4 linked regions of the Homo sapiens genome follow. The protein of the gene in region 1 interacts with the protein of each later gene in a pairwise test. Each region holds a gene or a part of one and is shown on either strand. Other genes may lie near its edges. The genes, in order: ING5, THAP6, TRIML2 and WASF1.

Evidence for each region.
Region 2: the proteins of ING5 (region 1) and THAP6 interact in binary tests that used the Homo sapiens proteins (3 or more experiments, as listed by UniProt).
Region 3: the proteins of ING5 (region 1) and TRIML2 interact in binary tests that used the Homo sapiens proteins (3 or more experiments, as listed by UniProt).
Region 4: the proteins of ING5 (region 1) and WASF1 interact in binary tests that used the Homo sapiens proteins (3 or more experiments, as listed by UniProt).

The regions. Positions count from the first base shown.
Region 1 is NC_000002.12:241,712,028-241,719,058, reverse strand, and holds part of ING5 (inhibitor of growth protein 5), read right to left. Parts: coding exon 6,988-7,031; intron 1-6,987. UniProt on the Homo sapiens protein: Component of the HBO1 complex, which specifically mediates acetylation of histone H3 at 'Lys-14' (H3K14ac) and, to a lower extent, acetylation of histone H4. Component of the MOZ/MORF complex which has a histone H3 acetyltransferase activity.
Region 2 is NC_000004.12:75,524,459-75,530,543, reverse strand, and holds the end of THAP6 (THAP domain-containing protein 6), read right to left. Parts: intron 3,585-6,085; coding exon 3,330-3,584; 3' UTR 3,115-3,329; coding exon of another isoform or gene 3,085-3,114; 3' UTR 518-3,084; downstream 1-517.
Region 3 is NC_000004.12:188,099,581-188,106,611, reverse strand, and holds part of TRIML2 (probable E3 ubiquitin-protein ligase TRIML2), read left to right. Parts: intron 1-601; exon of another isoform or gene 602-1,021; 5' UTR 1,022-1,243; coding exon 1,244-1,432; intron 1,433-1,679; coding exon 1,680-1,775; intron 1,776-5,338; exon of another isoform or gene 5,339-5,352; coding exon of another isoform or gene 5,353-5,361; coding exon 5,362-5,556; intron 5,557-7,031.
Region 4 is NC_000006.12:110,106,644-110,113,674, forward strand, and holds part of WASF1 (actin-binding protein WASF1), read right to left. Parts: intron 6,818-7,031; coding exon 6,683-6,817; intron 2,039-6,682; coding exon 1,885-2,038; intron 552-1,884; coding exon 434-551; intron 1-433.

The sequences.
Region 1 (7,031 bases):
CCCTGCCCCGCCCCAGGCCCCCAGCCCTATTGGCCTGGACTAAAACAGAACGAACACCTCCTGGGGAGAACAGAAATTTCCCTCTCCACGCTTCCTTTATATCTAAAGTCAGACAGCTAATAAATCATGAGACATGTACCCTCAGCAGGGAAATAGGACTGATTATGTTTTTTTAAAAGCTGGTTACCAAGGAATGGTGGCACATGCCTGTGATCCCGGCTACTCAAGTGACCCTCCCACCTCAGCCTTCCAAAGTGCTGAGATTACAGGCATGAGCCAAAGCACCCAGCCCTACAATCTCTTAAATGAAAAATGTATTAAAGGAGATTAAAACTAACTTAGGGCCGGGCACAGCAGCTCACGCCTGTAATCCCAGCACATCGGGAGGCCAAAAACAGGCAGATCCACCTGAGGCCAGGAGTTCGAGACCAGCCTGCATAACACGGTGAAACCCTGTCTATACTAAAAATACAAAATTAGCCAGTCATGGTGGCACGTGCCTGTAATTCCAGCTACTTGGGAGGCTGAGGCAGAGAATCGCTTGAACTTGGGAGGCGGAGCTTGCAGTGAGCCAAGATTGTACCAGTGCACTCCAGCCTGGGTGACCAAGCAAGACCGTCTCAAAAAAAAAAAAAAAAAGACAGAAAGAGAAAAGAAGGAAGGAAGGAAGGAAGGGAGGGAGGGAGGAAGGGAGGGAGGGAGGGAAGGAGGAAGGAAGTGAGGGAGGGAGGGAGGAAGGGAGGAAAGAAGAAAGGAAGGAAGGAAAGAAAGAAGGAAAGGGAAGGTGAGAGGCTGAGCTGGGCGGATCACTTGAGGCCAGGAGTTTGAAACCAGCCTGGCCAACAGGCTGAAACCCCGACTCTACTAAAAATACAAAACTTAGCCGGGTGTGGTGACGCTCACCTGTAATCCCAGCTACTTGGAAGGCTGAGGCGGGAGAATGGCTTGAACCCGGGAGGCAGAGGCTGCGGTGAGCGGAGATTGCGCCACCGCACTCCAGCCTGGGCCACAGAGCCTGAACCTGTCTCATAAATAAATAAAGTAATAGAAACAAATCAAACTGAAGTACAGAAAGAAAAAAGCTTGCAGAAAGTAAGCAGAGCCTCGGTGAGCTGTGAGAAAATCTAAGCTAAGGAACGCACAGGGAGCTGGACAGCAGGAAGAGGAGAAAGGAGAGCACAAAAATACTGGAAGAACTGTCTGAAAATTTTCCAAATTCGATGCAAAGTATAAACCAACAGTTCAAAGATGCTCAACAAGTTCCACGCAAAATATACACAAAAAAATCACACCAATACACATCATAACCAAACTGTTAAGAGCCAGTGACAATGAGAAATCTTAAAAGCAAAAAAAAAAAAAGAAACCACCAAAAATAATTATTATCAGTAATTTATCATCAGAATCAATGAAAGACAGAAGAAAATGAGAGAACATCTTTAGCGATAAAAGAAAAAAGGTCAACCTAAAATTCTATACGCAGTGAAATAAAAGCATTTTCAGAGAAACAAAAACAGAGAATTCATCACCATCAGCATACATGTACTGCAAAAAATGTTAAAGTTCTTCAGTAGAGGAGAAATGACAAGACAGAAATTTGCATCCACATAAAGAAATATACGTAAGCAGAATATGTATGGAAAAAAAATTTTTAAAGAAAGAAAATAAATATTAAGAAATAATAGTTGGGCCAGGCGCGGTGGCTCATGCCTGTCATCCTGCCACTTTGGGAGGCTGAGGCGAGAGGGTCACTGGAGGCCAGGAGTTCGAGACCAGCCTGGCCAACATGGCAAAACCCCATCTCTACTAAAAATACAAAAATTAACCAGGTGAGTAGGTGGGTGTAATCTCAGCTACTCAGGAGGCTGAGGCACAAGAATCACTTGAACCTGGGAGGCAGAGGTTGCCGTGAGCTGAGATCGCACCACTGCACTCCAGCCTGGGACACAGAGCAAGACTCTGTCTCAAAAAAAAAAAAAAATGAAGGTTACCAGAAATGGCAACTATATGAGGTAACTATATATGGGGTGACTTTTGTGGTGAGAACACTTAAAATCTACACATTTTTTTGAGACTATATTGTTATTAACTGTAGTCACCATGTTGTAAAACGGATCTTTTGAACTTATTCCTCCTATCTAAATGAAATTCTGTATCCAACGTCTCCCCTGACCACCCCAGCGCCTGACCACCATTCTACTCTCTACTTCTGTGAGTTCAACATCTTTACATTCCACATATATTTTAAGGCGTGTTTCACGTCATCAGTGGTTTGCATCTAAGGTAATAACGTGCTGGGAAGCTCAGATCACAGGCAAAGTGAAGGACAACAGCACAAAGGCAGGAAATGGAAGAACACTTGTGTGGAGCCACACGTTAAACATCAAATAGTGTAATATCTGAAGCTCACTGTGATAACTTAAGGAAACTGAGTGCACACACTAGAACAATCCTTAAAATACAGGGGCCGGGGCAGTGGCTCACGCCTGTAATCCTAGCACTTTGGGAGGCCGAGGTGGGTGGATCACTTGGGGTCAGGGGTTCGAGACCAGCCTGGCCAAAATGGTGAAAACCTGTCTCTACTAAAAATACAAAAACATTAGCCGGGTGTGGTGGCGCACACCTATAATCCCAGCTACTGCGGAGGCTGAGGCATGAGAATCGCTTGAACCTGGGAAGCAGAGGTTGTAGTGAGCCAAGATCATGCCATTGCAAATTGTACTCCAGCCTGGGCAACAGTGCAAGACTCCGTCTCAAAAAAAAAAAAAAAAAAAAAAGCATGGCTAATAAGACAAGAGTGGGGAAAAAAACGGAATACTAAAAAATACCTGATTAGTCCAAAAGAAGACAGCAAAGGAGCAGAAGGAACAAACAGAAAACTAATAGCAAGATGGTGAACCTAAATCCCACCATATCATTAATTATGTTAAATATGAACAGACCAAATATTGCAATGAAGGCCGGGTGCGGTGGCTCATGCCTGTAATCCCAGCACTTTACAGGGAGGGGAGGCCAAGGTGGGCAGATCATTTGAGGTCAGGAGTTCGAGACCAGCCTGCCCAGCATGGTGAAATCCTGTCTCTGTTAAAAATACAAAAATTAGCTGGCTTTCAAAGGATTTCAATTATGTAATGTTCTTTGACCACAACAGAAGTCAACTAAAAAATTAAAATTAGAAAGGTATCTGAAAAATCCCAAATTATTTGGAAATTGAGACACATACTTCTACATAAGTTATAGGGCAAAGAAGTAGCATGAAAAAAAAAATTCTAGGTCAGGTGCGGTGGCTCACGCCTGTAATCCCAGTATGTTGGGAGGCCAAGGCAGGCAGATCACCTGAGGTCAGGAGTTCAAGACCAGCCTGGCCAACATGGTGAAACCCTGTCTCTACTAAAAATACAAAAAAAAATTAGCCAGGCATGGTGATACGTGCCTGTAATCCCAGCTACCCAGGAGGCTGAGGCAAGAGAATTGCTTGAACCTGGGAGGTGGAGGTTGCAGTGAGCCAAGATCACACCACTGCACTCAAGCCTGGGCAACAGAGTGAGGCTCCGTCTCACCAAAAAAAAAAAAAAAAAAAAAAAAATTCTATTCCAGCACTTTGGGAGGCCAACGTGGGTGGATCACTTGAGCTCAGGAGTTTAAGACCACCCTGGGCAACATGGTGAAACTCCATCTCTACCAAAAATATAAAAAATTAGCCAGGCATGGTGGCATGCACTTGTGGTCCCAGCTACTTGGGAGGCCGAAGTGGGAGGATCTCTTGAGCCCAGGAGGTGGAGGCTGCAGTGAGCCAGGATCATGCCACTACACTCCAGCCTGGGTGACAGAGTGAGACCTCATCTCAAAAAACAAGAAAAACATTCTAAAATATTTTAAATAGGTAAACGAAATAAAAATTTAAAACAATATCAAAATTATATCAAAATCATAATATATCAAAATTTGTGGAGTGCAACAAAGATAATAATTAGAACAAGGAAGATATAAAAATCAATTATGCAAGCTACTTCCACCTTAAAAAGCTAGAATAGTATAGGCAAAGTAAACCTGAGTAGAAAACAGGAAATAGAGAGTAGAAACAAATGCAATAGCAAACAAAAAAATAGAGAAAACAATAAAAATAATGAAACTAAAAGCTAGTTCTCTAAAAAGATCAAGACGGCCAGACGCAGTGGCTCACGCCTGTAATCTCAACACACGGAGAGGTTGAGGCAGGCGGACTGCTTGAGCCCAGATGTTTGAGACCAGCCTGGGCAACATGATGAAACCCTGTCTCTACAAAAAATTAGCCAGGCATAGTGGCGCATGTCTGTGGTCCCAGCTACTCGGGAGCTGAGGTGGGAGAATCACTTGAGCCTGGGGACAGGGAGGTGGAGGCTGCAGTGAGCCATGTGCATGCCACTGCACTCCAGCCTAGGTGACACAGCTAGACCCTGCCCTCAGGGAAAAAAAAAAAAGGATCAAGACAAAATGAGAGAAACATAAATTACCAGTATCAGGACTGAAAGAGGGGTCATCATAACAGACACATCAGAACCATAATAATGCAAAATTATTAACAACCTGATGTCAAAAAAATCTGACAACTTACATGAAACAAATTTCTTGAAAGACACAGATTTTTTCCAAAACTGACTCGAGAAGAAATAGAAAGCCTGAATACTTCCATAACTTTAAAGGAACTGAATGCAACATCAAACTGTACACTTAGAATAACATTTTATTGTATGTAAATTATTCCTTAATAAAGTTAATTTAAAAGGTTAGAAAAACAACAGGACTAAACTATAATGTATAGTGTCTAGGAATGCACTATAAAACTATTAAAGAAACAAGGAAATAAACACTATAGAAATCTGGATCATGTTTATTTGGGGGCAGGAGGAGTTTATGATTTTAACAGGGCATATGGAAGGCCTTCCAGCAGCAGTTAATCACTGACTAGGTGCTACTTACAAAGATCTTCACTTTACGGAAATTAATTAAACCATGTTTGTTCTGTGCGGTTTTCTGTATCTGTGCACTACTTTACAATACGAGAATGTTGGGATTTTTTTTTTTTTTTTGAGACGGAGTTTTGCTCTGTCACCCAGGCTGGGGTGCAGTGGTGTGATCTTGACTCACTGCAACCTCCACTTCCCGGGTTCAAACAATCTCCCTGCGTCAGCCTCCCGAGTAGCTGGGATTACAGGCAGCTGCCAACTACTCAGCTAAGTATTTTGCATTTTTGGTAGAGACGGGGTTTCACCATATTGGTCAGGCTGGTCTTGAACTCCTGACCTCAGGTGATTAACCTGCCTTGGCCTCCCAAAGTGCTGCGATTACAGGCATGAGCCACCTCGCCCGGCCAAAAGGCTAAGCACTAGCTAAAAAACTGAAAATTGGGGCTGGGCACAGTGGCTCACGCCTGTAATCCCAGCACTTTGGGAGGCCAAGGCAGGTGGATCACGAGGTCAGGAGATCAAGACTATCCTGACTAACAAGGTGAAACCTCATCTCTACAAAAAATAAAAAAAAATTGGCTGGGTGTGGTGGCATGCACCTGTAGTCCCAGCTACTTGGGAGGCTCAGGCAGGAGAACTGCTTGAACCTGGGAGGCAGAGGTTGCAGTGAGCTGAGATCGCGCCACCACACTCCAGCCTGAGGGACAGAGCAAGACTCCATCTCAAAAAAAAAAAAAAAAAAAAACTGAAAATTGGGTCGGGTGTGATGGCTCATGCCTGTAATCCCAGCACTTTGGGAGGCCGAGGCAGGTGGATCACCTGAGGTCAGGAGTTCGAGACCAGCCTGGCTAACATGGTGAAATCCCATCTCTACTAAAAATACAAAAACTTAGCCGGGCATGGTGGTGCGCACTTGTAGTTGCAGCTATCCAGGAGGGTGAGGCAGGAGAATCGCTTGAACCTGGGAGGCAGAGGTTGCAGTGAGCCGAGATGGCGCCATTGCACTCCAGCTTGGGCAACAAGAGCGAAACCCCATCTCAAAAAAAAAAAAAAAGAAAATTGTCCCTTTTTTGTCAAGAAGAACTCTTTTTTTCTCTTTATTTTTTTTTTTTGAGACAGAGTCTCATGCTGTGGCCCAGGCTGGAATGTAGTGGTGCGATCGTGGCTCATGATCCTCCCAGCTCAGCTTTCCCTAGTAGCTGGGACTACAGCCCACACCACCACCCTCAGCTAATTTTTTCTATTTTTTGTAGAGATGGGGGACTCACTTGGTTGCCCAGACTGGTCTCAGATTCCTGGGCTCAAGTGATCCTCCCGCCTTGGCCTCCCAAAGTGCGGGAATTATAGGCATGAGCTACCGTGCCCAAAACTTACACTCTTTGACCCTCCCTCTGTGAGATCATCTCCACAGAGGCTTCGTGGCATTTCAGCATTTTCTCTTTAGTCTAAATGTCACTCCTCTGAGGTAATGCTACGATCTCTTTGGAGGGTATACAACACCTTTGGCAGGGAGGGTGTCAGTGGGAGAATGCTTTAAATAAAGTATCTCAAAAAACTTCAAGTTAAATGACATGTCTATTTAATAAATGTGGCCACATAATTAACAATGAATATATGCACACTATATGTTGACACATAAAATAACTGACAGATATACAGAAATCTAGCTACTTAAAGAGTGGTCTACATTGGCCTCTGTCAACAACACGTTGCTCACCATCCTCCTGTCCCTAGTGGGGCAGCACACACTGTGGCTAAGAGGACAGGCACTGGAGTCAGACTCCAGGTGCAGCCCAGCCGCACCACAGCAGCCCTAAAGCCTGGGCAGGTCCCTGCGACACTGAAAATGCCCCTGACAACGGCACCCCCTCAAAGGCTGCGGTGAGGACAGGCTGACGACAGGCGCGCAGCGTAAGAATCAGAATACCACCCGGCACACGGGGTGCACTTCACTCGGGTCAGCTTCCATCAGTGTTCCTACATCCGGGATACAGGCTATGGGTATTCGTTCTTTTGGGAAAAAGAGGGGAAAGCCTCTTACCCTCCTTTGTGCTTCTTTTTCTTTGGTGTGTCTTCCTCTGATGT
Region 2 (6,085 bases), on another chromosome or scaffold:
AATCCAATGGGAGGACTAGTTAATTGGAGGCCTTGATAAAGCACATGTGCTCCAGATGGTGAGATAAAACTTATGAAATTCAGGGGCCTATAAACATCAGTAAAATTTTGGGGGAGAAGTATCCAGTGATCTGCGGCATGCTAAGACATCCCCTCTAAAGTAAGAGACAAGTTATTTACAACCTGTATGTTCCACTATGAAGAAGAAAGCACAATGCCTGACAGGCCTCTTTGGGTTCTAAAGGCAGCATATTTCACACCTAGGAATGCTGCTCTCCTTTATATACTGGGTGACATCATATCTGACAGTTTTGAGTGAGGGCCAATGCAGAAAAGGGCTCTATGATAGGTCCATATTGTGCTGAAAGCTGGCCTGCTACGTGGGTCATCTAACCTTGCAGACCCCATATTAGAGTTATTGGTGGAGGAGAAATTAGAGCAAAACCTCTACGTACGTACTCTTCATTTTTCTCTGCCCATTTTATTGAATAACTCAATGTATAAAACCACATAACACATTACTGGATAAAATGTTTTATTTTTCAAATAAATTATAATAGATTTTCTCTCTCTCAATTATTTCTGTAATAATTTTATCTTTTTATTAAAACTAAATATATATTAAATACATTTCACCTTTTCTCAAATTACAGACTATGGTATAACTGTAATTGTCATTAGCAACCAAAGTCTATTTCCAGAAATTTAAACTTGATATAGAGAAAAATTCCACGTATCAAGCGCTTCGTACCTGACTTGGTGCTGAGGTTGAACTGTTGTATTAATGTGTTCCTGGCTCTAGAGGCCACTCCTAGCTTTTAAAGCAAAGTGGAACCCTTAGGGTCAGGCTTGGCTGCCAGAGAAATTTCTGGAGGGGGATGACTTGGGTTTTGCTTTACACAGGCCAGTTCTTTCCTGGGCTAGGGTGGAATCTCTGGGAACAGAGGACTGAGATACATACTGTGTTTAGGCATTTGTTTGGAGCAGCAGGGAGGACCCTATTTTTAATCTCACATTTCTATCAGTAATTGCTTCCCTATTAGAACAAAGAGAAAATGGGCAGCTCTGGGTCCTTAATGATACCAATATTTTGCACACAGTTATTTATTTCTCAGTTATACTAGGTCCAGTGAAAAAGAAGTGCTGAGTCTACTATGAACACAAGTAGTAAAAGTGACTGTGGCAATTTTGATAGTGGCAGACTGGGATTTTACTCTTGGAAAGGTCTTCCAGGTTTGGTGTATTCTAAGCAGCCAGTAGAGTGCTAGAATTTAGACATACTGTGTTTGGATCTACCCTCTTACTTACTCCATTGTCTTACTTTAATTTATATATTCACAAATAGGGTGAGGGAAAAATAATCTCTATTGAAAACATCTCCATAAAACCTAAGATCATACCCAAACTTTCCATTAGGGTGGCCATTTATGAACTCAAAATTAAGTAACTAAAATAAATAATGGGTAATTAATGAAAGTAGTTTTGTTTTTTTGAGATGGAGTCTTGCTCTGTTGCTCAGGCTGGAGTGCAACGGCGTGATCTTGGCTCACTGCAATCTCCGCCTCCCGGGTTCAAGCAATTCTCCTGCCTCAGTCTCCCAAGTAGCTGGGATTACAGGCACGTGCCACCATGCCCGGCTAATTTTTTTTTGTATTTTTAGCAGAGATGGGGTTTCACCATCTTGGCCAGGCTGGTTTTGAACCCCTGACCTCAAGTGATCTGCCTGCCTTGGCCTCCCAAAGTGCTAGGATTACAGGTATGAGCCACCACCCGGCCTTTTTTTTTTTTAACTACCTTTTTACTACTTTTTTTTCAGATTGTAAAAAGATATGGCCTCAGTGATTTCCTCTTAGCATAACGCTGATCTCGCAGATGTGGGTTAAATCCCATTTAGAGGGAAGGTTTGGAATCCTACATAAAAGTATAACATGCATTAAAACAGAAAATTCTTAAATACAAAAAATTCAAGTGACCATATCTTAACTAATATTAATGTAACAAAAATAAAATTACAATAAACAACTGAGCACAAAATGCAATTCAATTTTTGTTACTACAATGAAATGGCTGATACTCAAATTCTAACTGCTACAACATGGACTTCTGAATGAGGTCCATGTATGTACATGTGCTTCTAAGTAGAGTGTTGCTTTGGCAAATGGTTTTTATTCTAACCCACAGTATTTATGACTCTCAATTTCAGTTGTTTTCGGTAAGGAATTATGACAAAAGCTAAATTTATGAGACTTGGATCAATTAGGAAATAACAAGGAATTATTCTTTTGCATATTCAGTAAGAAGCTATTCTAAAGCTGCTGTTTTAATTACCCGTTTCTCTAAATAAAAGCCTTTGGACAATAATCTACTCCCCTAATTAAAATATTCTAATCCTTTCTCTCCAATTCCTATTTCAACTGGAAGAGCCACAGTTATTAATTTCTAATGGTTTCTTTTGTATTTTGTATTTTTTTAAAATGTCAGCAATACTACTTTACATATAAAATACAAAGCAGTATTAAAAGTATAGAGCTAGTACTGCCATTCAGATTTTAAACATATACCTTTATGACGAAATAGTCATGAAGCAAAGTGTTCAGATCTGTCAGAGCAACCAACCATTTAAAAATCAGATCTACGATCCTTTTTGTCTTTTTAAAGCTATTCTGGTTTACATCAAAGTGCTCCTAGTGAGGAGGAATGATGTACTGTACTGAAAACTGAGACTTCATGAGGGGTCTTCTTAAATTGGCTGTGAACAATTTTAAAAGCCCACAGATCTTCACTATGTGTTATTCTCAGAGTCAATACCACAGGAAGCCTTGTAAAAAGATCCTTTGGTACTACTGATAGCTAAAGCACCTTGGATTGAATCCAAGATGGATATGCATTACAAATGAATTGTGCTTTGTAGTAAAATGCATTTAAAGTAAAATTCAATGTACTTACCATAAAGCACATGTAAGTAAAGGTACTCCTTTGAAGCCAAATATCTGGAGAAGTGTCCAATTCCTTCTACTATAGCTTAATGTGACTAATTTGACATCATTTCTTTAGCTCTGTGAAATTTTCTTGAGATTTTAACATCTTACAATAGTGACCTGGCACTAGTGTAGGTCTATAAAACATAATTGTCACAAGACACAAATACATAATTACCACAAATTTCTGCATATTTTCAAAAAAGTCTTTGGATAACAACTATAATGCATAATGCTCCAGAGAATCCAAAGCAGCACTTTAAATGATGGATATTATTTAGTGATGGTAAATGAGATTTTATAAAAATTTGTACCAATGACAATTTTAGGTGGAACGTAACATGAAATTATTTCATGAAATATAGTCCTGTTCTATGCTCTCCTGACAACAGTCCCAACAGAAAGTGTCCAGTCTATTTGCTGTTTCTTGGCTGATCAGACATTCATCCTTTAATTCCCTGATTGTCTTCCTCAATGATTTCTGAAAACGTTTTTCTCGGTCTAAAACATTCCGTAGACTTTCCTTTGTATCCTCTAGCTCGCCGATCACATGATCTAATTTATGCTTAAGTTTCTTTGGACTGTCCATTACACTGTAGCTATGTTCCTAAAAACATAAACACCAAGTTATTAAATCAGACAGATATGTAGTTGGATAAAAGCTTATAACTAGGTCTAAGCTGTTTCTTCATTTACAATGCCTGGAGAACATTTTTAAGTTGGTGATAGAGGTTTAAGGAACACAGGAAGAAGATGGGGGTAGAAGCAATATTTAGGGTGCTAAGGGCATCCCTCCTTTTACTAAGGCCAGGCATACACAAAGACTGCAGAATATTATGGATGGGAAGCACTTATCTCTATGAATAGCATGACACTTGCAATGACTCTACAGCTTTTGTTCATTCAATGTGGTGCTGCTAAGTTTAATTTTTACCTATCAAACAAATTTAAATTAAGTTTTTAACTGGGTTACTTTATTGGATGGCTATTGCATTTGATAAGGTGTGACAGGAAAAGAGTACTGCAGCAGGTTCTCAGGCTCGGTGTTGGGGATTTAGAGAGGACTCTGGTCTTGGAATTTTCAAGAGACAACTCCTCTTGGTGTTTATTATGGTTATGCTTAAATTTGCTGGGTATGCTTTTATTCCTTTTTCATTTGAGAATAGGGAAAATAACACTGACATAGCTTATAAAGGTACTATAAAATAATTTTGAAAAGCTATTATTTAATATTAAAATTAGTAAAGAAGACTTTTATTTCCAGCCAAGATGAAGTAACAGAGACTGGATTGACCCCTACCTCCAAGAACCAACACAAGGCTAAAAGACAGAAAAAAATAGCTCTTAAGATAATGGATATTTGGCAAGGACAGCAGCTATTGTGGACAGATGGGAAGCAAAGAGGTGAGACCTAAGACTGCTCCAGCTAACTGCCTGAGAGTTTCTCGGCCTCAGGGCAAGGAAGGGAAACCCAGGCAGAGCTTAGCAGACTGAGCTGAGGAGGTAGTGCAAAACATCCAGGGAGACCAAAGTAGCTACAGTTCACAGGACAAAGTACTAGACAGGTGAGAGCTGCACAGAAAAAACTCAAGATCTTCAGAGGCTCCCCTTTGAGTATTCCATGGAGTAAGATCAGCACATGCACATGAGGAAACTACTCAAGGCTGAGGAAAGAACAACCAGAGATTAGGAGTGCCCTGTGCTCACAGGGTATAGCCACTATTCCCACTAGCCAGACTTGAAAATGTCAAGATTCATGGACACTAAGTATGCAAAACAGTCTTGTCAAACAAAGTAAAATCTGAAAGGGTCGAACAGTTTCTAACTAACTGTACTCCAGAACAATGCTCAAGAAAACATGATACAAAAATATCTAGCATCTGGCAAATTAAAACCCAAAATTCATGGCATGCAAAATTTACCAGGCATGCAAATAAGCAGGAAAACATTAGTCATAATAAGAGATAAATCAATCAATGGAAACCAAGCCGGAACTGACACAAATGTTAGAATTAGCAGACAATTAAGAAAGTTATTAAAATTGTATTCTATATATTCAAAAAGTTAAGTACATAAAATATATAAAAAAGACTCTAATAGAATATCTACAGATAACTGATGTGTGAGGTAAAAAAATACACTGGAGAGAATGGCAGTGTATTTTTTGAAGAAGAAAAGATTTCGTGAATGTAAAGTTACAGCAACAGGAACTATCCAGTATGGACTACAGAGAGAAAAGGAGATAGAAAAAAAATAAAGCATCAGTAACATGTTGCACAATTTCAGACAGCCTAATATACACATAATTAGAATTCCTGAAGGAGGGGAAAAATTGGGATAGAAAGAAATATTTGAAGAAATCATGGCCAAAATTTTTCCAAGTTTGATAAAAAGTATAAACTGCTAAATAAAAAAGCTCAACAAATCTTAATTACAAGAAATATGAAGAAAATGAAACCAAGGCATATCATCATCAGATTAGGCAAAAGCAGTAGAAAAAAACAAAAATTATTGTCCAGCACGGTGGCTCACGCCTGGCCCAGCACTTAGGGAGGCCGAGGCAGGGGGATCGCCTGAGCTTAGGAGTTTGAGACCAGCCTGGGCAACATGGAGAAATCTGGTCTCTACAAAAACAAACAAAAATTAGCTTGGCATGGTGGCACATGTCTGTAAGTCCCAGCTACTCAGGAGGCTGAGGTGGAGGGATTGCTTGAGCCTGGGAGGTTGACGCTGCAGTGAGTTGTGAGTGTGCCACTGCACTCTAGCATGGGTGACAGAGGGAAACCCTGTCTCCAAAAATAAATAAATAAAAAATTTAAAAAAAGAAAAATTCTTAAAAGCAAAGAAAAAAAGAAGTATTAGGTACAGAGAATAAAGGTGAGTATGACATTAATTAAATTTTTCATTAGAAATGGTGCATGTAAGAATACAGCAGGGCAACGTCTTAAAAAGTACCAAAAACAACTGCCCCCGCCCCCAAAACTGTTAACCTAGAATTTGATTACCTAGTGAAAATATCTTTCAAAAGTGAAGATTAAACTTTTTAAGCAACAGAAATACTGAAAGAATTCATCACCAGCATAGTTGCACTATAGGAAATGTTAAAGT
Region 3 (7,031 bases), on another chromosome or scaffold:
CTGGCCGGTCACCTGGAGGGCGTGTAGCTCCGGGGCGCGGACCAAGAACTGCATGTTGGTGACTGAACCGCGGTTCCGGCTGCCGCCCCCGCGAAGATGGAGTCAAAGAGGAAGGAGCGAGGGCGCTCACGGCCAGACCGCGGGCAGCGCGTCACGTCACTCCTGAAATTTTATTTCGGAAACAATTATTGAGAAGAGTGGCTTTGGCTTCACTGTTTTGCAAATCTCTTTAATTGATGGCTTCTTAGAAGAGCCGTTTTCGGCCGGGCGCGGTGGCTCACGCCTGGAATCCCAGCACTTTGGGAGGCCGAGGCGGGTGGATCACGAGGTCAGGAGATCGAGACCATCCTGGCTAACACGGTGAAACCCCGTCTCTACTACAAAAATACAAAAAATTAGCCGGGCGAGGTGGCGGGCGCCTGAAGTCCCAGCTACTCGGGAGGCTGAGGCAGGAGAATGGCGGGAACCCGGGAGGCGGAGCTTGCAGGGAGCCGAGATCGCGCCACCGCACTCCAGCCTGGGTGACAGAGCGAGACTCCGTCTCAAAAAAAAAAAAAGAGGAGCTGTTTTCCCTTATTTGCTTCCCCATTCCTTCTGTTGCATGTGTTTTGTCCCAGCTGTAGTCCCAGCTACTCCGGAAGCTGAGGTGGGAGGATCGCTGGAGCCTGGGAGTTCCAGAGGCTGCAGTGAGCCGTGGTCACGCCACTGTACTCTAGACTGGGCAACAGAGCAAGACCCTGTCTCTCAAAGGGAAAGTATTTTAATAACTTTTTCAGATACTTGTGGTTTTTTTCTGTAATTCTATCAACGAACCTCTTTCGCACTCTGTTACCTCACTCTAGTCCTGAAGTTCCTTCAGTAATTAGCGCGATGCCTTTAGAGCACTGTTTTCCCCTGAATGACTCGTAAGTGAGTGCTGTTCCTTGTAATTAATTTTCAGCCTATTGCTCAAGATTGTCAGAAGACCTGAGGGAAACCCGCTGGTCTTAGAACACTGGCCTAACTCTGTCTTTTCCCCAAGCAGGCAGCTGCCAGAAATTTGTTGGATTTGAGGAGTCCAGAGCGCCGACCCGCTCTGTCTGCGTGGACTTATTTCCTTGGATCTTCGTGGACTCTGAAGTTGCCAAGTGTGTGTGCCTGCTCCAGAAAACAAAGGAAGCCACCATTTTTTCTCATTCACAGTGCAGGGAGATACCTCAGTAGAAGCATACAGTCCAGTCTTCAACTAGGGACCCCTACCAGGATGTCCAAAAGGCTCAGCCCTCAGTTACAGCACAACATCACAGAAGATGCCTATTGTGAAACACACCTGGAACCAACACGGCTGTTCTGTGATGTTGACCAAATCACACTCTGCAGCAAATGCTTCCAGTCCCAGGAGCACAAACATCACATGGTGTGTGGGATACAAGAGGCTGCTGAGAATTACAGGGTAAGAGTCACTCACGCAAATCCCAAAACACTCTGGCCAACTCCTATATGGATGAAATGGACAGACATTCTGGTCCTCCAAAACCATTACCTTAGTTGATGTTTATTACAGAATATTAGATAAGTTCGTTGAACCTTCAACCTAAAGGCTAAGAAAATATATACTCAGAGTTGTTGGCTGTTTAAGGTCAGGAATCCAACTGTTCTAAATCAATGATCTCACCTGGAATTCTGTGCTTTCTCTATAGAAGTTATTCCAGGAAATATTGAACACATCGAGGGAGAAACTTGAAGCAGCTAAAAGCATATTGACTGATGAGCAAGAAAGAATGGCGATGATTCAGGTCAGTGAGTGCTTATCTTGATTCTTGGGGGGAAATTACCAGTAATGTTGTTAGAAAATAGTGTATCATAAACAAAGTCAAAAGACAAATCACAAAGCAGGAAAAATGTGAAATCTATAGGAAGGAAAAGTGCTAATATCTTAATGTATAAAAAGCTCTTTAAAGTCAGTAAGAAGCTGGGTGTGGTGGCTCACGCCTGTAATCCCAGCACTTTGGGAAGCTGAGGAGGGCGGATCACTTGAGGTCAGGAGTTTGAGACCAGCCTGGCCAACATGGTGAAACCCCATCTCTACTAAAAATACAAAAATTAGCTGGGTGTGGTTGCACGAGCCTGTAATCCCAGCTACTCGGGAGGCTGAGGCAGGAGAATCGCTTGAACTGGGAGGCAGAGGTTGCAGTGAGCCGAGATCACACTACTGGACTCCAGCCTAGGCCACAGAGCAAGACTCCATCTCAAAAAAAATAAAAATAAAAAAAGTCAGTAAGGAAAAGACTAGAAATTTAATTTTAAAAAACGATCAAATAAGAGTTTGCAGAAAAGAAAGTAAATATATTTTAAATACATTGAAAGAATTTGAACTTTGTTCGTGGTAAGAGAAATACAAATTATATGGTGAGTAAAATGGCATTTGCAATGCTATTTGCAATGATCAAAAAGATTAACGACACCGTTTATAACAATGACATAGGAGAATGAGCATCTCTTGTACTTCTGGTTGCCACATAAATTCTAAAACCCTTTAAAGAGCAATTTGAGAATAGCTATTCAGATTTGAGGGTTCACCACCTGTTAGGCATATTTCACTTCTAATTTCAGCCTGTATCTTCATACTTAATCCTATTCTGTGCAAGGTATCCCCGATTCTGGGTCTTTTCTCTCCCTCAATTTTTAAAGGAAATAAATGCCTACTTAGGGAAGATAGTGGAGGAGAATTGCCTGGCTAGGTAAGGATTTTTCAACCGATCCCCCTTCTTTTTCAGTTCCAAGTACCATGTGTTCAGCAAATACTGAGATCCCACTGTTTGCCAGGGACTATGCAAGGTGCTAGGGGCTCACCAATGGAAAACAAAAAAAACCAGCTCTGCTTTCGTGGAACTTGCATTCTAGTGGATATAAACAAAATAAGTTTAATATATAGTATGTTACCTGGGAAGTGTTTAAAAAAATTTTTTTTAAGTGAGAAAGGAAGCAATGGAGTGAGCTTGTAAATAAAGTGATCAGAACCTTGTTATTCAGAAGGTGGCACTGAAGGAGGTGGGGGATTGGGCCATGCAGTTTTCTTGGGGAGGAATATTCTAGGCAGAGGAAAGGCCTGGAGGCTGCCGTGTATGTGGCTGGAGCTGTGTAAGGAAACGGGGGCTGTAGGTGATGAGATCAGAAGAAGGCGGTCAGTCATTTAGGGTGGCAGCCTTCAATGAAATACAAGCTTCAAAACCACTGGAAGGTTTCGAACAGAAGGCTGACATGATTTAACTTCCATTTTCATAGAAACACGCTAGCTGCCAAATGAAAATAGACATTAAGATAGTAAAAGCAGGCTGGTCGTGGTGGCTCATGCCTGTAATCCCAGCACTTTGGGAGGCCGAGGCGGGCGGATCACGAGGTCAGGAGATCGAGACCATCCTGGCTAACACGGTGAAACCCCGTCTCTACTAAAAAATCGGGTGTGGTGGCAGGTGCCTGTAGTCCCAGCTACTCAGGTGACTGAGGCAGGAGAATGGCATGAACTTTGGAGGCGGAGCTTGCAGTGAGCCGAGATGGCGCCACTGCACTCCAGCCTGGGCGACAGAGCGAGACTCCGTCTCAAAAAAAAAAAAAAAAAAAAAAAAACCAAGAGAGTAAAAGCAGAGGTGGAGAGACGTGCAAAGGGACTTGCAATAATTAGGGAGAGATGATGGTGAGCTGGGGGACAGGTAGAGCAGTGGTGAGAAGTAGTCAGGTTCTTGATAAATCTTGATTTCATTGAATCTTTTTTTTTTTTTTTTTGAGATGAAGTTTCGTTCTTGTTACCCAGGCTAGAGTTCAGTGACGCGATCTCGGCTCACTGCAACCTCCGCCTCCCGGGTTCAAGCAATTCTCCTGCCTTAGTCTCCCAGGTAGCTGACATTACAGGGGCCCGTCATCATGCCTGGCTAATTTTTTTATTTTTAGTAGAGACGGGGTTTCACCATGTTGGTCAGGCTGGTCTCGAACTGCTGACCCCATGATCCACCTGCCTTGGCCTCCCAAAGTGCTGGGATTACAGACGTGAGCCCGGACAATTTCACTGAATCTTAAATAGCTTAATAGAGATGCTATTTAAGCATCTCTAAGATGACTACTTTCAAATATATATCCCTAGCTCAGATTTCCAAATGGTAGTAGGCTTCATGTCCAATTTCCTACTTACTATCTTTACTTGGATGTCTAATTGACTAATCAAATTCATCACATCCCGAGCTAACGCACACTCCTCACTTCTGGAATCCAGCCTTTCCATAGATTCTCTCTATATATTTTGGTAATTCCATTCTTCCAGTTGCTTAGTCTAAAATTTTTGGTGTCTTTCGTCCATGACTCCTTTTTTCCCCACAACTCTTACCCAAGCATCAGCAAATCCCATTGGCCCTTTTCCAATGTCCTGGTCTCCTCCTCTGTTTGACAGAGGCTATAGCTTCCTTAGTTTTTCCTTATTGATGAACATTTCTTTTTTTTTTTTTTTTTTTTAAGATGGAGTCTCCCTCTGTCGCCCAGGCTGGAGTGCGGTGGCGCCATCTCGGCTCACTGCAAGCTCCACCTCCCGGGTTCACGCCATTCTCCTGCCTCAGCCTCCCGAGTAGCTGGGACTACAGGCGCCCGCCACCAAGCCCGGCTAATTTTTTGTATTTTTAGTAGAGACGGGGTTTCACCGTGTTAGCCAGGATGGTCTCGATCTCCTGACCTCGTGATCCGCCTGCCTCGGCCTCCCAAAGTGCTGGGATTACAGGCGTGAACCACCGCGCCCAGCCAATTCATTGATGAACATTTCTTCGTCTGCATTTTATGTTCTAAAATTGTGTTGATGTCTTGGCTGATGTTGACTCAAATTCTATTTCTCCTTTGGGTTTATTCCTTTTCTTCTGTACTTTACATTTCCTCGTCTTTTTTTGTTTGTTTGTTTTTTTGAGACAGAGTCTAGCTCTGTTGCCAGGCTGGAGTGCAGTGGCGTAATCTCTGCTCACTGCAACCTCCACCTCCCAGGTTCAAGCGATTCTCCTGCCTTAGCCTTCCGAGTAGCTGGGATTATGGGTGCTCCCCACCACGCCCAGCTAATTTTTGTATTTTTAGTAGAGATGGGGTTTCACCATGCTGGCCAGTATGGTCTCGATCTCCTGACCTCGTGATCCACCCACTTTGGCCTCCCAAAGTGCTGGGATTGCAGGCGTGAGCCACTGCGCCCAGCCTTCCTTGTCTTTATATTGGGGTTAGAGATGGAAAGAATACATTGTGGTCAGTGTAAGATATATATATCTATATATAGATATAGATATCTATCTATTATGACGTGTGTGTGTGTTGTTAATCTATCATGTTTAACCTGAAGTCTATCATGTCTATATGAGGAAGGAAGAGGAACAAAATTTTAAAAAGATGATTGAGTCTGAGTATAGTATGAGACTCCGGTTGTTGAATGAAGAGTGTGAGCAGAATCTCCAGAGACAGCAGGAATGCATATCTGACTTGAACCTGAGAGAAACCCTTCTGAATCAAGCGATCAAGCTTGCCACCGAGCTAGAGGAGATGTTCCAGGAAATGCTACAGGTGAGATATTGAAAACAACATCCTCATATTTGAGAAATGAGAAAAAGAAGAGCTAAACATTATGTCAATTCCAAAATAACATAGCCAGTGACAACCACACATGTATTAAATGAATTATATACCTACCTGGCAACTCCATTTCTATGAATTTATCTTGACATGCATATAAAAAGACATAAATAAAGCACAATATACCTATAAATATATTTGTACACATATTACTGTATTATGCTTCAAACATACTTACACACATAGAAAAAGACACCTGGGTAAGGCAACACTGAAACTGAGTTTCAGTTTAGAGCCATGGTTTAGAATTCACCTTTCTTTTTTTTGAGACAGAGTCTGGCTCTGTCTCCAGGCTGGAGTGCAGTGGCGCAATCTCAGCTCACTGCAAGCTTCGCCTCCCGGGTTCACGCCATTCTCCTGCCTCAGCCTCCCAAGTAGCTGGGATTACAGGTGCCCGCCACTACGCCCGGCTAATTTTTTGTATATTTAGTAGAGACGGGGTTTCACCGTGTTAGCCAGGATGGTCTCGATCTCCTGACCTCATGATCCACCCGCCTCAGCCTCCCAAAGTGCTGGGATTACAGGCGTGAGCCACCGCGCCCGGCCTAGAATTCACCTTTGAAGCCGGATGAATGGAGTTCCTATCTGAGCCAGCTGTTTACTGGCTCCTGGGTGGCCTACGACCTGCTGCTTAACCTTTGACTTGGTTCCTTTAGCTGTAAACTGGATATAACAGTGACCCCTAATTTATAAAATTATTGTGAGATTTGAGTGAGATAATCTGCTAAAGCTTATTAAATCGTGTCTTGTTCATGTTAAGCAGTTGATGAGTAGCAGATGTTACAATTATAACATTCATAGCAAGAGGTTAGAAACACCCTGTATTTGTCAATAGAAGACTCACAAAATGTGCTCCATACATACATGGAAGAATACTCTTCAGCATGTTAAGATGATGTCATGGCTCTGTGTATATGAATAAGGAATGTTCTCCAAGAATAAAGTAAGTTGTCAGATTAGTAATCAAATATAATAAACTATCACTTATGTTTATGTTTTTTCCCCCTAAATAACATACTCAAGTTGCGTATGTGACTACGCAGTATATGTAAAGTATACTTGGAAGGATAAAAAGAAAATTGATATCAGTAACGTAATTATTTATTTCTTATTAGTTAATCTATATACCTTAATTTTAATTGATTTCAAGTTAATGAAAAAATAGGGAACCTTCTGAACAAACAGCCACAGAAAAAACATGAAATGTTTTAGGTGCATATTAATGTGAGTAAGGGCTGCGTGCACACACATCTGTATTGGCTTAAACATACATAACAGGGGGCAAAGAATCAACTGTCTCTTGAGAGGAATCCTGCTTCAGCAGAAGAATATCATGGCCTTGCCTAATTATGTCTGTTCCTGGGGTAGCAGGCAGAAAAGCAGGGTTTTTTTTTTTTTGGTTTTGG
Region 4 (7,031 bases), on another chromosome or scaffold:
ATGTGCTCTGTAGCAACAAAATACTAGCTTAATCTACGTTACCAATATCTGTACAAGATTCCATTGCTCCTTACCAAAATGTTCCTCTCTTCCTTGGTACACCTAACTCCTATCTGTTCTTCAAGATTCATTATAAGCTTTGTGGGAAGGGTTTACCCTGCCTGCTAGCTAAAGCAGATGCTATTTTGTGTTATCTAAACCCTTTATGCATACCTCTGCTATGGCACTTATTATGCCCTACTCTAATAATCTAATTGCTCATCTGCTCCCCATCAGACTGTGTTCTTTCTGTGGAGTTATAAAGACTTCAGTATTTAACTATATGGACCCAATAAAATAAAACTGTCAAAATACAAGATTAATGAAGTTCAATATATGCAACAAAACACAAATATACAAAAATTAACCTCAATTTTTTAATCTCTTGTAATACCTTCTGCTTCCTCTTTTCCTTCCTCTTATCCTCTGTATCTTGCAACATTTTTTCTTTCCATAGATCAAAGAAATACGAAGGATTGGTATAAAACTTCAGACCTTCTTTACCATCATCTCTGAAATATAAAATATCAATTAAAACACACATTAGTAAGACTTAGGCAATCAGAATAGAAATAATTTCACTAAAATGTTTATCCTCTTACATTAATAAAATACAGCATGTTAAAATAGTGCCAAAATAAAACTGAATATTGCACCAATAGAAAATTTCTCACAAATATGAGGAAACAAAGAAAAGTGGTAAAGCAGATGCTTTTCCAAGTTAGTACTAACAATTTAAAGTATAGCTGGGCAATTTTCATCCCTAATTTCTGCTGAATCCCAAATTTTCTAAAAAGTCCTTTGGGCAATTCCAATAATTACAAATAGCTCTGCCAAAGATAAAAGCCTGAAAAGACAGTAACATCATCTAGAAGACAGAAATTTTGCAGTTTCTGCCAATACTATGATTTATTTATTATCTTACTAAATCCAAAAGATATCATGTAATAGTCATTCTAACAGTCACATTTATATCTAATTATCTGCACACTGACTTACAATTTCAAATAACTCTCTGAATACTATTTTATTCAGGTTGTGTTGTACATTACCCATTTAACAAACCATGTGAAAGAACTTCAAAGAAAGGCTAAATAATTCCAGATTTTATTCTAAGTGGTAAAAAGCATTTTATAAAGGTACTACCTATTCATTATGTAAGAAGTTAATGTATACAAATCAAATCAAGAGTAGACGAAACAGGCCGGGCGCAGTGGCTCACGCCTGTAATCCCAGCACTTTGAGAGGCCAAGGCGGGTGGATCACGAGGTCAGATCGAGACCATCCTGGCTAATACAGTGAAACCCCATCTCTACTAAAAATATAAAAATTTAGCCGGGCTTGGTGGCAGGCGCCTGTAGTCCCAGCTACTCGGTAGGCTGAGGCAGGAAAATGACATGAACCTGGGAGGCAGAGCTTGCAGTAAGCCTAGGTGACAAAGTGAGACTCCGCCTCAAAAAAAAAAAAAAAAAAAAAAAAGAGTAGACAAAACAAGCAAAAATTATGTTTATTTTGTTAGTAGGACAGAATTTTGAGCTTTTTCCATTTGATTAAAAATTAAATTAAAAGGACAATAATAACTCCTTATCTCTTTACATTAATAAGTTTACCAGTGGCTTTTCTAAACTTGTAAAAACAACTCTTTTAAATAGGTCTTGTCTTTTGTATGCCACAATCTTAAGAATTCATCCAATGAATAAAAGCAAAGGTTTTCCAAAGGTGGTGGACAGAGAGGGCTCTCTGTGTTGGCTAGAACCCCAATGAAATAAAGAATGTTTGGGGATTTAGCATTTCAATCTGAAGTCTGAGATAAATAATAGGGCTACTATTTATTAACCTACCTACCTATAAGGAGTGAGTATATTGAGAGGTGGAGGCTGTTCACAAACATCGTACGTCTCCTGTAATGGAATAGGCAAAGTCTTGCGATCGAAAAGCTGCTGGTCTTGAATTGTAGAACTTCGGAAAGCTTTCCTCATTGTTATATCTTGCAAAGACACTAAAACAAAAATCAAGAATTCATTTTATTTTATTTTACTAAGATGATTTAACATAAGGGCAAATTCACATACTTTATTTGTCTAAAAGTCAGCATGGCTCAAGAGGTTGTGACCTTAGTGGCTTATGAATCAGAAACCATATTTTAAATGTTCTATCATTATATTTACCCATATCATTCTGCGCCTAATTTTCCCAATCAGATAGGTTTTAATTAACCTTTGATTTTGAAGGCTCAGAGGGCCCTAATGACACCTGAAACATATCTACATTTCAACCAAATATACCTTTTTCTTTCTTCTACCTGCCATCATGGGCCCCCACCAACTTAGGTTCTCTTCTCCTATAATCTTCTTTTCCATCTCCCTTTATTCCTTTTTTTAGCTTACACCAGTAACTCTGAAAGGAATTACTTATTAGTGGCACTGTGGGCTAAACACGCTGTTAACCTCTATGCTACATATACTATAAATATTGTATGTGTACTCTCAAGTTAAAACAAACTTTACTGTAAAGGAAATACTTTTAAGTATTAGGTGATCTATATTATTCTCTTTTTCACTTATCTTTTATCTGTACTATAAGGATTTCTACCTAACTATAAGCTCTTGAAGACTCAGACTATCTTGTACATTAGTATTCCCAGTCACTAGCACAGCCCCATCACATACATGATTTAAAAACAACTTCATTTATTTTGAACTGTGCAGCATGTTAAAATAAAAAACATACAAAAATGCTGCATTCTTAATTCTTACACTGATATCCCGATATTAAAAAATAAGGTAATTTCTTGATATTTAATATGGCCTTAAGTATACAGACAAATGCCCTATAACATAGCAAGGTCAGTATAACAATCCTAACAATTCTTTTTTTTTTTTTTTTTGAGACAGAGTCTCGCTGTGTCACCCAGGCTGGAGTGCAGTGGCACGATCTCGGCTCACTGCAACCTCTTCCTCCCGGGTTCAAGCAATTCTCCTGCCTCAGCTTCCCAAGTAGCTGGGACTACAGGCACCTGCCACCATGGCCGACTAATTTTTTTTTTTTTTTAAATTTTTAGTAGAGATGAGGGTTCACTATGTTGGCCAGGCTGGTCTTGAACTCCTGACCTCATGATCTGCCCGCCTCAGCCTCCCAAAGTGATGGGATTACAGGTGTGAGCCACCACATCCAGCCAACAATTCTTAAGTTATCCTTCTCCTTAAAATAATATTCCTGTCATCCCCTCAAGTAAATTCACTCAACATGAACATGGGACCAATGGCACAGAAGGTACAATAGGCTGGCTCTGCAATGGTGGCACCATAATTCCATTTCTAGCAATTCCACTGCTGCATGACCTGTAACACACTTATAAATACTAAAATAAAATTCAGAGAAGCAAAAAGTTTTTCCCCACTATCACTAAAAAGTGGCACTGGAGATACAGTATTTAATGAGTACATACTATATGTGCTAGATGGTTTCACTAAATTTCATTTCATTTAATCTTTACAATTCAGTAAGACAGGAATTATTACTCCATTGTGAAATATAAGAAAGCTAAGGCTAGGAAATAGTATATAACTGACCTGAGGTTAAACAGTTAATAAACAGCAGAGCCAGAACAGAAAAGTCAGATCTGTCTACCTTTGAGGCTAATCTTTTTGCCACAATACCACACGCTGTTCTCAGGCTCCTGCCAGAAGTGGGTTGTGTTTTCTGCAGTCAAAGTGGATCAATTCTTGCCACTCTCCTGCCCCACTTATTAATCAATAAGTATGTAATTAAGATGAAACCTAGTGTTTAATCTCGCCAAACTTCCTTGGTAAAGGATGTAAGAAACATGTAAACTAATAAGCATGATGTACTTTTCTATCTTCAACTCCTCTCATTTATCGTTTGTCTTATTATTAACAGACTATTGTGGTGAAGCTCCTTCCACTTGCCAACAATAACATCTGATATTAATAAAATAGAATTATAAAGCAATAAATTAGCATAATGCTTATAAACATAATTGACTTAAATATAATTGTACAAGTCTTTGTTTAAAATTCATTTAAAAAATATTTTCAAAATTGATAGTTTTTAGTTACTACAAAACGGTTAAAAAAACTGATACCACACTGTGCTATTTAGTACTGTACACATGATGTTTTTTTTTTAATTCCCACTGAATTAAAAAACCTAGGTTAAATAACTGAAAACTCCTTCAATACAACCTCTCCAAAACAATTTCAAATTAAGTAGTTCAGCTTTTAGATTCTGAATTCTTCCCCCACTGCTCCACAAAATTTTAAAGGAAACTAGGTATAATTCTGACAGTATAGCTGTTGACATATTAAAATTTGTTTTTTAACACAAACATCTTAATTTATTTACTGTTATCTGTATTTTCACTTTCAAGTTTAATGGTGGCTCTAAGACATTTGTTAAAATGTAACAATATTTTGAAACTAAATGTTGATTTTTATTTCTGTTACATATGAGAACTGCCTGTGTATTTCTCTATTATTTGATGGCATAAATTTATATTTAAGTGATAAGCAGTTGAGTTATCTGAAAAACAAATTTTGGCTATAAATTATGTATTTGAAAGCATGACCATAAAATATTTTTCACCACTAACAATGATTTTATTTCAAGAATTCCATGAGGTGTAATTAATGTATTGATACATGCACATGTTTCAAAGGATACCACCAAGAAAGACAACCTAAAGAAGGGGAGAAAATATTTGCAAATCATATATTTGATAAAGGATTTAGATCCAGAATATACACAGAATTCCAACAAGTCAAAAATAAAAACACGAATAATACAAATTATAAATGGGCTAAGGAATTAAATAGACATTTCTCCAAAGGAGATATTCAAATGGCCTGTAAGCACATGAAAACATACTCAACATCATTAGCCATCAGGGAGATATAAATACATGCTATATGAATGAACCTTGAAAACATTATGCTAAAAGAAGCCAGTCACAAAAGACCACATACTGTACTATTCATTCATATGAAATATCCATACAGACAGATCCATACAGACAAATCCATAGAGGCAAATCCATACAGACAGAAAGATCAGTGATTGCTAGGGGTTGAGCTGAAGGGGAAACAGAGTGACTGCTAATGAGTACAGGGCTTCTTTCTGGAGTGATACAAATACTCTAAAATTGATTGTGGTGACGGTTGCATAACTTGAATATACTAAAAAACACTGAATTGTACACTTCAACTTTAAATGGGTGAACTGCAAGGTATACGTAGGTTGTGAAATATATCTTAATAAAGCTATTTTTTAAGTATTATTTCCTTTTCTTCTTGTATCCAGAGCTCTGAGTTTACATTTTACAAGTGGTACAAATCTAGTATGCCAAGTATTTGCCTCTCCTTATTTACACATTGGATTATTTCAAAAGTAGCTGGTTCCATCACTAAGACATCTATCATTACATTATATTTTTGTTCTTTCCACTGACATCCTTTAGTATTTTTATTGTTAAAGTTTAGATCTATTATATAATTTGCATTTATACTAAAAATTAGATCTATCATATAATTTGTGTTTATACTATTTAATGCAACAAAAATATTTTGAAGAGAGTGTAAGAAATTCCATTAAACAATTCTCTGTGGTAGGTAAGTGCAAATTATGTTCTTAGTATTGCATTTCTTTTTGTGAAACAAACAAAAAGATGCATTTGGGAAACGTCGGCATTCAATGTATTCTATCAAGGCATAAAACATGATTTTACCACCGAAGTTTCTACAATTATTTTAGCCTATCTGATTATTCCTGATTTAATATCTTGGTATAGAATGTTTACACCCTACATACTGGCAATTTGTTTTTGAAATGTTCATTTAAAGTAGGAAGTTGCATTCAGTTAAATAACTAATAAGACTTTAGCAATATGCACATACAAAAGCATATTAAAAGCAGTTACATAGCCAGGTGTAGTGGCTCATGCCTATAATCCCAACACTTTGGGAGGCCGAGGTGGGCAGATCACAAGGTCAGGAGTTCGAGACCAGCCGGACCAACATGGTGAAACCCCATCTCTACTAAAAATAAAAAAATTAGCCAGGCGTGGTGGCAGACACCTGTAATCCCAGCTACTCAGGAGGCTGAGGCAGGAGAATTGCTTGAACCTGGGAGGTGGAGGTTGCAGTGAGCCGAGATTGCGCCACTGCACTCCAGCCTAGTGACAGAGTGTCTGTCTCAAAAAAAAAAAAAAACAAAAAAAAAACCAGTTACATTCTTGTAGAATCAAACCTAAAGATTTCAGGTAATTTTCTAATAATTTTTATTTCTAAGACAAAAGTATACAAATAAATTATAAGGGAGAAATGAAAAGAGAAAGATAATGAAGAGAATGGAGGAAAATGTCTGGTTAAAATGACTTCTTTATGCAAAAAAATTAGGAGCTGTTTAGTGTACAAAAAGAAGAGATTTAAAACAGAGTAGAAAAGAAAAGCCCGGAGAATCATACTGATGGCATTTTTAGATAATTCACTGATTTATTACAATATGTACACCAAAGGACATGGGTATGATCTGTAATAAATTCATGATTAATACTGTTAAGTATATCATTCATCTCATCTAACTTAAAATATATACGTAGAAGAAAATACAATATTAATAAGCTTACATTCTTCTTCCTTTGGATCAAGCTGTGTAACACTAACAGATAAACGGTCCACACGTTCTTGCAATGAGTTGACTCTGAAGGAAAAACTATGTGCTTCATTGAATAATTCTCCAAATATATCTTCAGCATATTTACCTAAGCAAAAATGACACATATATCATAAAATTTAACATCCAGAGCACTGAGTTTTTATCTTTGCAAGCAGTAGAAATCTAGCATGATATTTGCCCTCAGATACTTTGTGATCAGAGATAAATAATGAACAATGTAATATTACAACTGGTGACCTGTTGAATTTGGAATTTATTTGGAATTACAGTTGACCCTTGAACAAAATCGTTTAACTGTA